Regions from separate parts of the Homo sapiens genome. Here regions 1 and 2 are each linked to region 3. The links come from fine-mapping of genetic effects on gene expression. A gene starts in region 3. Each other region holds a variant in brackets. All regions are shown on one strand. Distances are between the middles of the regions. Region 1 overlaps CROCC2 (ciliary rootlet coiled-coil, rootletin family member 2). Region 2 overlaps CROCC2 (ciliary rootlet coiled-coil, rootletin family member 2). Region 3 holds the start of SNED1 (sushi, nidogen and EGF like domains 1).

Evidence for each region. PIP is the estimated chance that this variant, and not a neighbour inherited with it, causes the effect.
Region 1: its variant is the best candidate, but not a certain one, in a credible set for the expression of SNED1 in whole blood (INTERVAL, PIP 0.52).
Region 2: its variant is the best candidate, but not a certain one, in a credible set for the expression of SNED1 in whole blood (INTERVAL, PIP 0.78).

Annotation. Positions count from the first base shown.
Region 1 is chr2:240,946,469-240,949,218 of GRCh38, reverse strand. It overlaps CROCC2 (ciliary rootlet coiled-coil, rootletin family member 2), which reads right to left. Exons shown (of 32, transcript NM_001351305.2): 16 at 122-240. Among named protein-coding and RNA genes, the nearest start is that of UICLM, 20 kb to the left of the region's middle. RefSeq lists an enhancer at 1-95. The variant AC/C (reference allele first, on the strand shown) is at 1,302.
Region 2 is chr2:240,974,257-240,977,006 of GRCh38, reverse strand. The region is part of intron 27 of CROCC2 (ciliary rootlet coiled-coil, rootletin family member 2); the gene reads right to left. Among named protein-coding and RNA genes, the nearest start is that of UICLM, 8.2 kb to the right of the region's middle. The variant G/C (reference allele first, on the strand shown) is at 1,601.
Region 3 is chr2:240,997,377-241,000,126 of GRCh38, reverse strand. It overlaps SNED1 (sushi, nidogen and EGF like domains 1), which reads right to left and starts at 1,509. Exons shown (of 32, transcript NM_001080437.3): 1 at 1,077-1,509. The coding sequence starts at 1,289. RefSeq lists a silencer at 1,458-1,877.

The sequences.
Region 1 (2,750 bases), 51 kb after region 3:
TGTTCATGCCCCTGTGGGCTCCGGAGAGGGGGTGCAGCACGTGTGGGCACTGAGCTCCATTCCAGGGGCCCCTCCATGGCTGACTTTCGGGGAAGGAGCTGAGGGAGCGCCCTTGGAGCACCTTGCAAGGCCTGCCGCGCGAGTCCTGCGCTCCGGGCTTCCTCCTCCAGCTGCTCCTGCAGCTTTGTGGCCAGCTGTTGGGCCTCAAGGAGGCTGCTCTCCAGGGAGTCCCTCTCCACCCTGCAAAGATGCAGCAAACAATGGGCAAGTCATCCCCAAGATCCTGCGTGTAAAATGCTCTCTATAGCTTTACACAGGTGTTAATGAGACTCAGCTGAAATGCAAATAAATGGAAGAATGTTTTAGAAATTATGGTGCATCTCTGGAGCACCATGTGCTGTTAACAAGGATGAGGAAACTATTTTCTATTCTCATGTCATGAAAAGAGTCCCCCCAAAAAGCCACGCACGCAACTGGACCCCCACATACGGCGTGATTCCATCATGTGAAAAGCCTGCTTGGTGCATTTGTGCATGGAGATGCCACTGTTCAGAAGACACCTGGAGCACACACCAACACACAGCAGTGCCCATTCCTGGGAGGGAGGGGTGATAAAAGACCTCACATTTCTAACAGTTAATTCATCAATGATCCAACCATCAATGGCAAGTTTCATTGTTGCTGTTCGCTGCCCTGTGCTGGGTGTTTATCCGTGAACAAAGCAAGGCATTAAACAACACGTACAAACACATCACAAAGACTCAAACACAGACACCCATATGAACACACAAATGGTAGGTGCACAACCCCAAACAGATGAGGTCAGGGTGGGCCATGGGCCACAGAGACCCTGGCAGCTCCTGATCAGGCCCTGCCTCCATTTCTCTTCCATCTTTCTGGCCACCGCCACCCCCTTCATCGGGGTAGAGCACATCCAAGCCTTCTGGGGCTCGCCAGGGCTCGCAGAGGGAAGTCCTCTGGGCTCAGGTCAGAACCCCCAGAGACCTCACTCTGCTGCATGCTACTCTGCTCCCTCTCCGGTCCCTCCTCCCGTAAGTGTTCCTCATGGCCCCCATCCCAACACTCCCAGGCTTGAGTGCTCTCTTCACCTGGCAGCTCTTCCCCCTTCTGCGTGTAGGAAACCTTTCCTTCAAGTCAGCCTGGAAACCCCTCCTCCTAGAGGCCCGCCTGGTCTCCTGTAAGGGATGTGGCCTCTGCTGCTCAGACATCAGATGTCTTTGCCTGAAGCTTGGGGACCTGAGCGTGTGCCCAGCCTCTCTCTCCTTGGGGGCCCAGGAGAA[AC/C]TCCAGGGGCTCTGCCATTGAGACCCTGGACTGGAGGCCTGGCCCACCACGGGGTGCTCTGAGCAAGGCAGGGCTGCTTGGGGTGTGGGCTGGCGGGGACCTTGGTCCATCTTGCTGGCTGACAAGTGGGCCAGGACTCCATGAAGGGAGGGAGCAGGTCCCCACTGCTGAAGCCTTGTCAGGGCCTGAGGATCCGAGAGTGGAGCCCTTCATAAAGCAGACCCGTGGGGAGGCCTCATCAGAAGCAAGGAGCTGCAGCACGGTTTCCCACACTTAATGGTCCTGAATGTTACCTGCGAGCTCATCAATGGCAGCTTCCACGCTCTCTGGCCCCACTGGGCCAGTCAGATAAACACACAGAGTGTGTCCGGGCAGACGTGGCTTCAGGTCAAGCCCCTCTGTCACCAGAGGCTCAATGGGCCATCAGGATGCCCTGTTCAGTGGCCTGTGATGCTGGGGCCTGCAGGGCTGCCATGTGCAGGGACCTCGGGTCAGTGGCAGGGCTGAGGTAGGGGCAGCTGTCAGGGCAGCACCCAGGCTGCTGAGGGCTCTGGCTGGGGCCTGTGTTCTGGGCAGTAGACCCTGACAGCAGGAAAGGGACCTCCACCCCGGTCCTTGGAGCCCCCAGGGCCCAGGAGGGAGCATGGGCAGGAGCCCAACCCGCAGCAGCCTCCCTCAGGTTTTCCTTGCTGTGCAAGCTTTCATTTGGAGAAGAGGTTTGTCTGTGAAGCTCGAGGATCCCAGACTCCAAGGTTTCTCATGCCTCCCAGATTCTAGAATTCCAGGAGGAAATCTTTTCAACAAAAATGCTTAGCAGTGCCTGAGCAGGGCCCTAAGCAGGGCCTATAAGGCACAGAAGCCATCAGCTGTTGGGTTTCTGCAGAGGCTGCAGGACCCATTCAGATCACCAGGCAACAGCCTACACACATCCTGTTCTTGCCTGCGAGTGCCCGTCCCAACTTCTGGGAGTTGCCCTGAGGGCCTTTGGGCTCACCCGCCCACACTCTCCACCTCATGTGTCCCTGGGCTGACCCTGCTTCTGGCTCCAGGGATGGGTGTGCAGCCCAAGCCTGGGATCAGGCCCTGTGACTCCCAGCTCCTAGGATTGGTACAGGGATGTCACACAGCTCAAGACGGCCCATGGCAGCCGCTCTCAGGCCTTGCAGGGAGAAGGGTGCTCTGCATCTGCTGGAAGGGGGACCCTGGGGTGGCTGCTGGCCATCTTGCCACCTCTCAGAGTAAGCCTGCCTGGGAAAAAGATCTCAGAGTCAAGCTGTGCTGAGGGAGAGAGAAGCAGGATTCTGAGGGCACTGTGGGAGTGCCTGAATCCAGCCATACCTGAAGTTGGATTCACCCTGAACTCCTCAGCTCCATGAGCAAGACATTCCACATCTGCCTTCCCCTGGTCTGAGCTGTGTTTCTGCACTTGCCACCACCTCTTTCAGGAG
Region 2 (2,750 bases), 23 kb after region 3:
ACTGAGCAGGGATGAGCCTGGGATCCTGAGGCTCCTACCCCAGAGACTGAGCAGGGATGAGCCTGGGCTCCAGAGGCTCCTACCCCAGAGACTGAGCAGGGATGAGTCTGGGCTCCTGAGGCTCCTACCCCAGAGACTGAGCAGGGATGAGCCTGGGCTCCAGAGGCTCCTACCCCAGAGACTGAGCAGGGATGAGCCTGGGCTCCTGAGGCTCCTACCCCAGAGCCTGAGCAGGGATGAGCCTGGGCTCCTGAGGCTCCTACCCCAGAGCCTGAGCAGGGATGAGCCTGGGCTCCTGAGGCTCCTACCCCAGAGACTGAGCAGGGATGAGCCTGGGCTCCTGAGGCTCCTACCCCAGAGCTTGAGCAGGGATGAGCCTGGGCTCCTGAGGCTCCTACCCCAGAGACTGAGCAGGGATAAGCCTGGGATCCTGAGGCTCCTACCCCAGAGCTTGAGCAGGGATGAGCCTGGGCTCCTGAGGCTCCTACCCCAGAGACTGAGCAGGGATGAGCCTGGGATCCTGAGGCTCCTACCCCAGAGACTGAGCAGGGATGAGCCTGGGATCCTGAGGCTCCTACCCCAGAGACTGAGCAGGGATGAGCCTGGGCTCCAGAGGCTCCTACCCCAGAGACTGAGCAGGGATGAGCCTGGGCTCCTGAGGCTCCTACCCCAGAGACTGAGCAGGGATGAGCCTGGGCTCCAGAGGCTCCTACCCCAGAGACTGAGCAGGGATGAGCCTGGGATCCTGAGGCTCCTACCCCAGAGACTGAGCAGGGATGAGCCTGGGCTCCAGAGGCTCCTACCCCAGAGACTGAGCAGGGATGAGCCTGGGCTTCTGAGGCTCCTACCCCAGAGACTGAGCAGGGATGAGCCCGGTCTTGGAGCCAGCATGTGGGGCTGCAGTGTCAGTCTCCCCATCTGGGGCATGGGTATGATGCAGTCTCACAGGGGTCTCGTTGAGACCAAAAGAAGGCTGGGCTGGGCGCTGTGGCTCATTCCTGTAATCCCAGCACTTTGGGAGGCTGAGATGGGCAGATTTTCTGAGGTCAGGAGTTCGAGACCAGCCTGGACAACACAATGAAGCCCCAGTCCTACTAAAAATACAAAAAATTAGCCGGGCGTGGTGGCGGGCGCCTGTAATCTCAGCTACTTGGGAGGCTGAGGCAGGAGAATCACTTGAACCTGGGAGGCAGAGGTTGCAGTGAACCAAGACCGTGCCACTGCACTCCAGCCTGGGCAACGAGAGCAAAACTCTGTCTCAAAAAAAAAAAAAAAAAAAAAAAAAAAGCAGGCTGGTTGGATGCTGGATTCTGAGATGCCCCCAGGGAAGCTGTTACAAATGAAGGGCTTGCATGGAAGGCTGGGAGCGAAGGCTGGGAAATATCTGAACAGGAGCAGAAGGGACAAAGGCCTCGTTAAGCGTCCTGCCGGCTGCACAGAGAAGGACAGGACACGTCATAAACACTCGCCAAATCCATCCTTTGGGCTCTGGAATTGGGGTCCTCAGCCTCATACCCATTTATCCACTGGGCGACGATGGGCCAATTTGATTGCCCACTGGCAGGTATCCCCTGGTCTCCCTGCACTGGCGAGCTGCCCC[G/C]TCCTGCCCTCAGGCCAGTCACAGGACAGAGTTAGCTCTGGACAGTCCTCAGATACAAGGGGATTGGAGCCCTTCACTCCACACAGTGGGACTCTGGGGCCAGACAGAGGGCAGGGTCTGGTGCCAGTTCATGGTGGCAGGGCCTCCTCTGGACTCTGGCCTGCCCTGCTGCCTCTGCATCTATTCTACCAGCCTCTCCTGCTTTGACCATACTAGCATTATAGCCTGTTGTACTATTCACTTTCAAAATTTTCTTGGAAAATCTCAAACATCTATTCTTTCCTGTAAACTTTGCAATCAGTTTGTCCAGTATTCTCTAAACACATCACAAACAAATAGACAAAACCAAACCAAAAAAGCAAACGACCAATAAACAACTGACAAAGCAGGAGCATAAACAAAGATCCACCCAGACACTGATCAAAAGAAAACCGTCATCCCTGCCCAAAGCCACAGCCTCTCCAGGAAGATGACGTAAGCAATAAAAAGTGGCACAAACACACACTCATGCTTTCAAATAACCCCCAAATTTAAGAAGAAATAAAAATGGAAACTTCTAGAAAACTGGTAAAAAGGAAAAGAACTCACATCAAAAACTGATGGGACACGTACCAAACCACAATTAGGGAAAATGGGATCACATTAAATGCTCTTACTATTAAAGAGAAAGCCCAAGCATAAACAAATTACTTATTCCTTTCAAGAAATAAGAAAAATTACAACAAAAAGAGGGTGTTGGCTGGGTGTGGTGGCTCATGCCTGTAATCCCAGCACTTTGGGAGGCTGAGGTGGGTGGATCACTTGAGCTCAGGAGTTTGAGACTAGCCTAGGCAACATGGTTTAACACCATCTCTACAAAAAAAAAAAAAAAAGAAAAAAAAGAAAGAAAATACAAAAGTTAGCCAGGTGTAGTGGCATGTGCCTGTAGTCCCAGCTACTCAAGAGGCTGAAGTGGGAGGATCGCTTGAGCCCAGGAGGTAGAGACTGCAGTGAGCCGAAATCATGCCACTGCACTCTAGCCTGGGTGACAGAGCAAGACCCTCAAAAAAAAAAAAAAAAGTAAACTAAAAATAAAAATAGAGTGTTCCTAGAAATAAAAGCTGAAATCAATAAACTAAACAAAAATAAAAGAAGAGATACATTGATTCTT
Region 3 (2,750 bases):
GGTGGAGGCAGTGCTGCTGGTGGTGGGGTTGAAGGAGGTGGTGTTGACGGAGGAGTTGGCAGTACAGGTGGTGTTACTCCGGGCAGCACAGATGGCAGAGGCGATGTGGCTGGCAGTGGGTTGAGGCTGGAGGTGGGCGAGGGTATGAGAGGGCTGATGGTGGAGGTGGCCGTGGTGACGGAGCTGGAGGGGACTCTACTTGAGGCTGGCCCAGCAGTTTTCTAGATATGATCTGGGGTGTTTCAGGGAACCACCAGGTACCAGTGCACCGTGGCCTACTCAGGGCGAGTGCTCCATGCAGTTACCAGGTGCATTTCATTCCCTGGGCTGCCATAAGGGCTTGGCCTGGGGTCACACTCTGGGAGCCATGGAGACAGAACCGGCACTCGGGCCTGTTCCTTCAGCTGAGCTGAGCCTGCTGTCATGAGTCCCTGGCCCCAGGAGTCCCACTGGGAGTCCTGTTTGGAGAGTCTGAGCCTGAGCGGCCAGCCCCCAGACTGCGGAGAGGACGGCAGGGAGGGGCAAGCCTGTTGCTAGCCCGCCTAGGAGGGTCAGCGAAGAAGCAGGCCCTGCCCTGAGCGCCTGGGCAAGGGGTCCAGCCTCCTGGCTCTGGGCCGCACTGGCGTCCACGGGGGGCGGGGCTGAAATGGCCCAAGGAGGGGCTGCAACCTTCGCAGGCCCGGCGCCCCACTTGGGAAACTGAGGCCCGGGAAGCCCGTGCCCACGGCCACATTGCCATGTGTGAAAACCAGGGCAGTACCAGGACCCCTGCTCTCCCCTGGGAATCAGGCGCCGGGAAGACGCGCTCGGCAGGTCTGGCAGGGGCCGGGGCGCCGCGCTCCACTCGCCCCCGCCTCGGTGCCCGGCGGCTGCCGCCCCCGCCCCGCCCGCGCGCCTCTCCCGCGGGCCGCTGTCCGGCCTTGGCCGCCGAGGAGGAAGCGCTGTCCTCATTCCACCTCGGGCCGCCCCGGTGCCAAGTGGCTGGCGGCGGCGGCGGGAGTCCGGGCCCGGCGGGCAGCGGCCGGGGCGCAGCTCCCTCCCCTCCCGGGCGCCCCGCGAGCCCGGGGGTTACTCACGTAGAGTCCGGAGTGCTCGGCACCGAAGAACGGGAAGGGCACCGAGAGCGGCCGCAGCCCCGAGCCGCCGTCGTCCTGCTTGGGGGTGACGGCGTCGCCGCGCTCGGCGCCGAACGGGTAGAAGTCGGCAAGGGCCACCGCGCCGCGCACCCCGCGCGCCCCAAGCCCCAGGGCCGCGGCCACCAGCAGCGCCCAGGCGACGCCGTGCCGCATCGCGGAGGTGTGCGGGCGGGACGGGGCGCTGGCGGAGCAGGGCGCTGGGGGACTAGGCTGCGCGCGGGGGTGGCCGGCAGGGCCAGGCGGGGTGCGGGGAGCGCGGGCGCGCCCGCTGGCCGCGCCGTCGGGGGCTCCGCGTCCCGCGCCCGTTCGGCCGGGCCGCGCTCTCGCCGCAGCTCCGCAGAGGAAAGCGCCGGGCGGGACCGCGTTCGGGGCCAGCCCCGCCCCTGGGGCCACGATTTAAATATCCAGCCCGGCGGTCACTCGGGGGGGCGGGGCCATGCAAATCGGGCGTCTCTTAAAGCGCCAGGCCCCGTGGGAGGGCGCGGGCGCGCGGGGAGCTCAGTCCCCTGGCGTGGGCACAGGCAAGGTGAGGGCTCTGCGGGCGCGCGCCCTGTGGTGGGGCCATGCTCCGCCCTGGGTCCCTACCCTGGTGGAGGCGCCTGGGCCCTCAGTGCCGTCCTGGGACAGACCTGTGTCCCTAAGGCCTGAGACGCTGGGCCCGCCCTGAAGGCGTGTCATCACGCGGGGGGCGGGAGGGGACCCTGGCCAGGCAGTGCCTGAATGAACCCGTTCCGTGCTGCCCCCTTCCCAGCCCTGAGCATGGGGACGCCAGGCTTCCAGCCACAGGGGCAGACTAACCCCGGAGCCCACTCCCTGCCTGGGTCTGTGTGAGGAAGAGCCCGGGCCGGAGACTAGGAGGCATGGAACAAAGTGTTTGCATCTGCGTGGCCGCATCAGGAGAAATTCCTGGGAGGCTCGGGACCTCGGGGCGACCCCTGGGTAAAGCAAACCCTCCGTGGGGAAGACTGACCCACTCAGGCCCTGGGGGCAAGTGCGTGCATGACACCGGCCTTGGCAGGTGGGGGCAGGACTCTGAGTCCCAGTATTTGAATTCAGGGTCCCCACCCTGTGGCCTGCCAGCCCTGCCCCCTGTCTCTTGGGCTGCTGGCCTGGGCTGCCTGTCTGTCCTTCCTCAGGGCCTCAGCCGGGACCACCTCTATGTCCCCAGGCCCATGGCAGGGTCTGATTCCTGGAACTCACCCGGCCCACCGTGGTCTCTTCTCTTAGATCCTGGTGTTGGGTGGTGTTGGCTGCGTGCCACACTGGGGCCCCCAAAGATAAGAGTGCACCCCTCGAAGACAAGCAGGAAAGGCCGGGCTGATGGTAACTGCATCTACCACTGAGGTGCTGGGTGGTTTTTTGTTTGTCTTTGCGTTTGTATCTTCTGAAATATCTCAAGTGAGCACGTGTTGTTTTTCAGTGAGAGCCAGGCACAGTCAATGTTATTTTTAAGAAGCAGCGGAGGGTTCTCTGCGTGTGACTGGGTGTTGCCGGTTCTCACAGATCCTGCACTTGGTGTTTTCACTCAGAGGTTCATGACCCTTTAGACTTGGTGTCAGGGCCGGGTGCAGAATTGTTAAGGAGGAGCTGACCCTGCACTGGCACCTCCTGAAA